Linked DNA regions of Homo sapiens: region 1 is linked to region 2. The links come from fine-mapping of genetic effects on gene expression. A gene starts in region 2. The other region holds a variant in brackets. All regions are shown on one strand. Distances are from middle to middle.

Region 1 (4,000 bases), 27 kb before region 2:
ACAGCAACAGGTACCAACTTGAAAGATGTATAGGAAAACAATTTTAAGTCGAAAAGAATCCATCCATCTTCAATTTTTCCCCCTGCTTCTCCAAGTTGGGAAAATATTGCTATCATTTGGTTTTTGCAGGGGACACCTCAGTGAAGAATTGCAGTGACCATAGGGACATAGAGAAACTAGCACTAAACCATATTTATTCATTCATTCACTCATTCACTCATTCACTCATTCATTCATTCAGCCATTGTCCCTGAATGGCCACTATGTGCCAGGCACTGGAGATACCGAAATGAAGAAAATGTGGTCTGTGGCCTGAAGAAATGAAGTTGAGTAAGGGAGGCAATGAAAACACTGGTGTGCAATGGGGCACTGAGAAGGGCTTGGGGAAGGCTTCCTGGAGGAGGTGACACCTGGGCCGAGTCTTGTTGGTCAGTCTTGGTTAGCACAGCCAAGAAAGAAGCATATTCTGGGGTTCAGCCTGCACAAAGGCTGAAGAGCAAGCAATAATCAGGGATGGGTTCTGGGAGCCACAGGTGGTTTAGGCCCGGGGCTGCTTCCAAGGCCAAGGGCAGGACTCTCTATTTCCATATCCTCCCGGGACAGTGTATATGGGACTCGCCATAAGAGCTGCTCCCGCTGCCTTCTCAAGACCCCCCCTCTACTGCCTCCATGCCTGGCCGAGCCAAGGTGGGGATGGGGCAGAGCTAGCAAGCAGGGGTCCTGCAGCCCACAGTGCCTACCAGGGTAGCTTGCCTCCAAGGAGCACTGGACCCTTGAAGATTTGCTTCCACTGACCAGACCCTCAACTTTGGGCAGTAAACCCCTCAGGGTTATGAATATCCCCAAGAGCAGAGCCCTTCTCTGCCTCTGGGCAGATTTCACTGGATGCGTGTATGAGGAAGGAGCATTGTCCCAGCCCCTCCTAGAGCAACCAGAGACCTGAGCAGCATGCAGCCAACCACCCTGAGATTCCAGGAATGGCTGCCACAGTCTAATGGGTGAGACAGCAGCTGCTACCCTGCATAGATCCATCCAGAGAAAGCCAGCAGGCCCACTTGCCATCCTTTTACTCCCACTGCAGTTATCTGCCTGGCTTCAAAATGGCCTTCACTGGCTCAGGACCAACCTTGCTGGAGGACAAGGGCATGAAAGATTCATTCATTTGTTCATCCAACACCAAGTATGTGTTATGTGTGAGGCCTGTAGTACAGGCTAGGACACCAGAGATACATCAGGCACAGGTCTGCCCTCCAGGAGCCTACGGTCTGGCAGGGGAAGGCACATGTACTGGAGAGCTGACACTGTGATGTGGTAGAGTGCTAGGAGCCTGGAAGCCAGGGCAGGTTTTCTGGAGGAAGCATCATTTGCATCCCTGTTTTGAAAGATGTGGCTCCCTAAGCAGGGGGCCTGAGATTTGGCTGCTAAGACCCTCCCCAGAGCCAAGAGAAATTCTCTGAGTCCCTCCAGCTCTACTTTTCTCCCTGAGACCCTCGTCCCCCCAGGTTCCTGAGAGCTGGACATTCCTGCAAACAGCCTAGGCCACCCCCATCCGGCCTCAGCCCATATCACCCGAACTCGGAACAGCTGTGCTGCAAGGGGTATCTGGGCCAGACCCAGGCCCGCCACACAATGGTGTGCCACTGGCCGGGGGAGTCATTGTGGAGCCTCAGCCCCTGCCTAGCTCCAGGCCATGGGAAGACAGGCCAGGCTTGGGGGAGGGGTTTAAGTGGTTGTCAGGGAGGCCCCTGCAAAGGAAGAGCTGGGCCCAGGGAGGAAGGGCGGAAGGTAACTGGGAGGTCAGGAGTTAGCCCAACCTCAGAGGCACTTGGCAGTGGGGTGGAGAGGGAGGGAGGGCCTAACTGTGGCCTCCCTGCCACGTGAATTGCAGCCAACCGATA[C/A]TACTATTCCAGATAAGAAGCCCTGGCTTCTCAGGCTGGTGAGGACCTGCAGAAGTCACCTATCCAGGCAGAAGGACAGAAATCTCCCACCGCCCCCTTCTGGTATGCAAGTCCCCAGCAGCGGCCCCGTGACGGTCTATGAGCTGGGGACACTGCTCTTGGCAGTACACCTCATGTCTTTAGAGCAGAGGCCCCTTCTGTTTATTAGACTTGGACCCTGCTATTGTGAACTCTGCTTCCCCTGGCTTGAGATCAGAAGGTCCCAGCCTGGCCCTCACCCTCTGTGGCACCAAGAAGGCTGGCCTTCCCTGACCCAGCACAAGTACATCCAGACCCTTCCCTTGGCCTGGCTTCTTGAGGGATGTTCCACAGCTGCCCAGATGCTCCACATACAACTGGCTAAGTTCCTCCAAGAGACCCTGGGGCTCAGCTGCTGAGGGTTTCTCCCTTCCCCATCCCCTAATGCAAGCAAGAGGGGTGCATGGGCCACTGTGCCTATCAGGAGTCCTCTAGCTCCACAGTTGGCAGGCAGAAAAGGGAGTGGCAGGAGCTGATATGGAAGGAGCCTACCCATCAGCAGCAGCGTCTTCTGGACCCAGAAGAAGGCCCAGGCCAGGGCAGGCAGAGCACAGATAGGAACGTTTCTGGTGTGCAGTACAGTGGAGCCCTGGACCTGTGGGCACAAGTTCATCTCCCAGAGCCCTTGTATGTGCTCTAAGCAAGTCCAAGGTGAAGGCCAAGCCAGGCCCTGGCCCATAATACCAATCCATTCAGTGAGGAGGAAGCAGGAGACCCAGGGTTTAGTCGTAGTTCCACCGTTTACTTGTTTTGACAAGACACAGACCTTTCAGAACCTCTATTGCCCTCTGTGTTAAATGGCAGCAATAAAACCTCCCAGGATTTTCAGGGAAGGGGGTGGATCAAACAAGTTACAACACATGTGAAAGTGTGTTGGAAAGCACCAAGTATTCTAACAGAAAAGGCCAAGAAACAGCATGCATGCTGCCACTTCCCTCTCCCGTGCCCAAGGCAGACATGGCTATCTATCTCGGCACTGTCTCACCAAGCTATATTGATCATTCAGAATCCCTCTCAACACATTCCAGGATAGTTAGGGTGACATAGCCTCCATGGGGTGAAGAGAAGCAGCAATGCAAAGCAGGGAATGCCCAGGGAATGGGCCAGGTGGCCTGTGCCGTCTATGGGCTGGGCCTCATGCTCAGCTGGGCTGTGGCTGGGCTTCAAGAGGCCTTTGTTCCCAGCATCCTGGTTAGCAACCCCAGTTCCTCTTTCGTGCATTGTGGTTCCCTGAGAAAACGTTAACCCAGCCCCCAGCACAGTCAGGCCAGCCCTGGGGAAGGCCTCATTCATGAGGCAGGACCCCAGGGGCCAAGTTGGTGCTCGGTGGTGGCAGGACCCCTGCAGCCCCCTGTCCCACTGCACACTCCCAAGTCCACCCCGCGAGGAGCACCCCCTGAAAAAGGCCATGTATCAGCCCCTCTGCCCTGGGCCACTGCATGTAGTGGGAGCTCTGGTCAGGCAGAAGTCTTTTGAAAAGCAGGTCCTGGGGCTCCTGCACCTCCACCCCAGCGCCCATCGCCACGGACTCCCCCAGGCAGGGCCAGCCTGCCCACCAGCAGTCACCAGTGGCCTCCATGGTGTGTTTTTAGGGAGTGCTGAGCAGTCCCCGCTGTGTCAGCAAAACCCTCCAAATGGTGCTTTCAATTCCATTCCTTCAGCCTCTCCCTGGGAGGGAATAAAGGCAGGAAGTCTCTATTAAACTGTGAATGTCAGGAGATAGGTAAGATGGCCCCTAATTCCTGATTGATCTCCTAACAATGAATTAGTTCTTAAAAGCATGGATTTCCCTCTCAGGGCCTCAGACTGTGCCACGAATCCAGCGCTCCAGGAGCCTCCTGCCCCAGCCCCTAGTGCTCCTCCCGCCCCCTGGAGGCGCCATGTTCTCGCACCCAGCTCTCCCATGCACCCCAGCCCACAGCCACCAGGGCTGGCATCAGAGGCACTACCATCCCGGGCAACTCAGAGGGCGGCTCCAGCAGCCTGCCCCTCCCCAGCAGCAGCAGGGAGGGACGTCCCTAGTG
Region 2 (4,000 bases):
TCAGTGCACACTGTCCTAGGGAGTTGGGTGAATATCTATTATAGTGTGTCCATGTCACAGTTCAGAATCCTGAGGTCCCAGAGCAATTCAAATGCTTCTGGCTCCTTTCAGTGGAAAGCTGCAGCCAGCCTAAATCATCTCCCTGTGCTGGGCCCAGGAAGAGATGACCCTTTAGTATACCATGTTGTTTGAGTAGCCAAGACCTCTGGGAGTAAAGGCCCCTGGCCATATAAGCAATATAGGGGAAGGCGTCCTGAGCTCCTCTTGGGGCCTCTCTGCTACTGGGTGCTCTGCAAGCTGGGTCCCTGTGCCCTGGATCTCTAGAAATGTTTCTCAAATTGGGGCTGCTGAACAGAGGGCAGCCCAGCCAAGTGAGGGCAGGAAGTGGGCAAGAAAGCAGGAAGGGTCTCACAGGGCCACCAGGGAGGGCAGTGCAGGGCAGGTGGCCCATGACAGGTGGGATGCTGGCTTGCCTGCCTGCCACCATCCTCTGTTCCTTCTGGAAGCCATGCCCTGCCATGAGCCATGGCCTTGGTGCTGAGACTGTCCATTCCACCTCCCATTCTCCTCCTCCCTCTGACTGTCACCTTGAGAAGCATCCACCCTGGGGCTTAGGGCAGCTGTGTCTGTGACATGTGGAGCCCTCCTCCTCCTCAGAGGCCCAGGCCAGCCTCCAAGTGCTGAGATAGCCAGCTGCCTGTGGGCACCCAGGTTGCTAAGGTATCTTCCAGGTTCAGCCTCCTCCTCTCCCTCTTATCCTATCACCCTCTCCTTCTATTCCATCCTGCCCACTGGGTCCCTGTGCCAAGCCCTCCACCTCCCTCCTGCCTCCCTCCGAGTCCCTGCATGACTCATACTTTCCCTGGGCCCTCCCTATAAAGTTTGGTTCCACAGGCTCTTTGAAGAGATCCAGCCTCTTCAGCTCTGGGCAGGCAAGAACTAGGCAACCAGGCCATGGGTACCAGGGCCTCTGCCCCCAGCCCGGGAGCCCCTGTGTTGGGGCCAGGATACTATCTGAACATGCTGACAGTCTGGACTTTGGAAGGGGAAAATGGTGCTTCCCTGTGTGGGCTTCTGTGTTTGAGCTGAGGAAACTGAGGCCAGAGAGATGCCGTAATTTATCCAGGGACCCAGAAGGGGCTCATAGCTGAGCTGAAGAGTGTCCCACATCCTCCCCAGTACTCCACACTGGTCCCTGAGTGGCAGCCTTGCTAGGATGGCAGGAATCAGCTGACCACTTATTCCTGGGCCATCAGACCCTTAGAATAGGGACCAGGTGGGCAGTGCTGCCTCTGTGTCTGAAAGTGGACCCACCGTGACCAGTGCCCAGTGCCCACCAAGGCTCAGCCAGGGGTTTCACCAGGGCATGGGGCACTGGCTGAGCATACCACGCCCTCTGTGTCCTCTGCAACACTAGAGCCCTGAGACTAGAGGGGCAGAAAGATGCCAGCTGTCAAAAGCCAGTGATATCCACCAGAACACACTGACCGCCCCCACCCTGTGCCTCTCCTTCTTTGCAGAAGCTACCTGTGCCCTGGGTTCTCTGGGCAGGGAAGGGCTGGACAGGCAGCCCTCAGGGGACAGCCCTGCCTGCCACTTGGGCAGCTGTCAGAGCATGCAGATGTGCCCGATGCCTAGCTGGGGCACTTGGCACAGTTGCCACTGCACCCTGCCTAGGGGTCCCAGCAGCCTCTGGGCGGTGGGTGGAGTGGGGTGCACGGTCACACAGGCTGAGAGGGCCCCCAGGACGCCCCCATCCCACAGTTCCCACTCCAGTCTGCTGTCTTCTCCCAGCTTTTTCCCAGCGCCCCGCCTCCCCCGACCTTACCTAGGGACGCAGCCAGGAAGAGAGCGAAGAGCAGGGATCCCCAGCGCCAGCTGCCGGCCTCCAGGGCCGTGGGGACGCCCATGTCGCCGTCGGACGCGCAGAGGAACTTCTGGTGCCGGGGAGCGGGCGGGACGCGGCCGGCGCGGGGAAGCCTCCCGCGACTGAGTGCGAGCGAGTGAGCGCTGCGGGCGGCCCCAGCGCCGTGCTCCAGGCACCCGCCCCCTTCGCGCAGCGCCCCCGGGGGGCCGTGTGGGGGAACTGCCTCTCCGAGGGCCGCGTGGGAGGGGCTTCCCGGAGGCCGGCCCCGTGGGTGGGGAGCCAGCGTGCGTCCCAGCGAGTCAGCTCCACTTGATCGGCAGTTTAAAGCCCGTTCTACCGTCCCCCAGTCCTTTTGGAGAGAAATTATTATTGCTGCGCAGCCTAAGAAGTAGATCTACCTCTAACAGCGTGATAGACGTTACCATGGCTTGCATCTGCCCTCAGCCACCAGCCTTTGAGTGATCTGGGGACAGAGACTTGTACCCTACATCCTCCAGCCAGACCAGGGCTTGGTATGTGGTAGGCACTCCCAGCTGTGGAATGAGTGAGTAAATGAGTGAATGAATGAAATCTGACATTGTGAAGAGCTAGGCAAGCTGGAGCCAGTTTAACTGTAGATTCAGAGCCTGAGGCACCCTGAGTGCATGCGCGCGCGCACACACACACACACACACACACACACACACACACACAGAACAGGTGCAGGACTACACGCCAAGATCAGCACATCCCTACCCCGGGACACACACAGATATGCAGGCAACACCTGTTGGCGTGCCCCACAGCACATCCTGCAAGCTCCCCTCCGGCAGAGGCCTCAGCTGTCCGCCTGGCTGTGCACCCGCCCTCCCTCCCTGGTGCCTGGATATCTGCAGGACACTCTGATGCACCCTAACTTCTAGTGCCTCTGCTCTTGCACCCACACCCAGCACTGCTGGCACCACTGGAATGTCTCTCCCCTCCTAATTCTTCTCATCCCTCAGGGCTCAGCTCAAGTCCTCCCACTTCACGAAATGTCCTGACCCTTCCTTTTTCCCGGCAAATCCTTACTGTCCACACCCCCTTCAGCTACCACCTCCAGCCTGAGATAACCAGCAGTTGGTTCTTCTTCCGGCTGTTCTGCCCTCCAGAGCGAAACTACAAACCTCTCTCTGATGTTTCTGAGACCCTAGCACAAAGCTGGGCGTGGAGAAGGTTTTACTGCACTTTTATCTGAATGGACAAACCAATGAGTGAGTGAGTGATTGTGTGATGGAGGAGCAGAGGTGATCGTGGCCAGGACCAGGGATCACAGGAGTGGAAGAGCACAGCCATTTTACTCAGTTTACCCCAGTCTAGCTGAAGCTTCCAGGGGTTTTTCTGGCACTTTAGGGATCTTGGGTTAATAGGTGACTCCTAGGCTGAGAGGCAGAGGACACTCAGAGTCTGACTGGGTCAGGAACCAGGGTATCAGGACTCAATGGGAGCCAGGAGTCCTGGGGGCCTTGTGGGTGGCCTGATCCAAGTCACGGGCTCTCTGGAGGCCCTTAGCCCTTGCTCTAAGGGCAGGGAAGGCTACAACAGAGGAAGGCTGAGGCATCATGTTATTACTAAGTGAACTTGTGCAGGCCCAGTCCCCCTGGAGCCAGTGAACTCCCCAGGATGGGAGCCCCAGAGGCTGGCAGGACATAACCCAGGTCCTTGGGCATGCTCCTGGCCTTGTGACCCCACCTTGGAAGGCAGCCCAGGGCCCTTCCTGCTGGCATAGCATGAGCTCCCTTCCACCAGGGGAGGTACAAAGCCAACTGAGATCAGGTGGACACCGGGCCCTTCTCACCCTGACATCCTCTGGCAAGTGAGGGGGGTCCCTTAAGGGCAAGATCCTAGAGCACCACCCCATCTCAACCCTTCCTGGACTGGCTTTGCTCAGGACACCCTTGAAACCAGACTCCCTCTTCCCCAGGGCCTAGCAGCCGGGGAGGGCCTGGAATTAGAGAAAGGGGAGCAATTGCCCTGCCAACCCCTTCCCCAGGGGGATAGAGCCTCTGAGCTGGGCCCAGTTCCCTCCCCCCTTTTCACTTCCTTTCTCCCTACCACACTGCCCACCACTGAGCCTCCTGGGGTTGCATCAGGGTGAGACACAGGCATTGCCCA

The links. PIP is the estimated chance that this variant, and not a neighbour inherited with it, causes the effect. A credible set is the group of variants that fine-mapping cannot tell apart.
Region 1: its variant is the best candidate, but not a certain one, in a credible set for the expression of VSIR in pancreas (GTEx, PIP 0.54).

What each region holds. Positions count from the first base shown.
Region 1 is chr10:71,744,859-71,748,858 of GRCh38, forward strand. All of the region lies in intron 38 of CDH23 (cadherin related 23), which reads left to right. VSIR (V-set immunoregulatory receptor) reads right to left here. Exons shown (of 7, transcript NM_022153.2): 7 at 2,698-4,000. Among named protein-coding and RNA genes, the nearest start is that of VSIR, 27 kb to the right of the region's middle. RefSeq lists enhancers at 3,140-3,349, 3,735-3,784, 3,985-4,000. The variant C/A (reference allele first, on the strand shown) is at 1,899.
Region 2 is chr10:71,771,530-71,775,529 of GRCh38, forward strand. VSIR (V-set immunoregulatory receptor) reads right to left here and starts at 1,991. Exons shown (of 7, transcript NM_022153.2): 1 at 1,829-1,991. The coding sequence starts at 1,910. The region is part of intron 38 of CDH23 (cadherin related 23); the gene reads left to right. RefSeq lists silencers at 1,791-1,870, 1,891-2,220.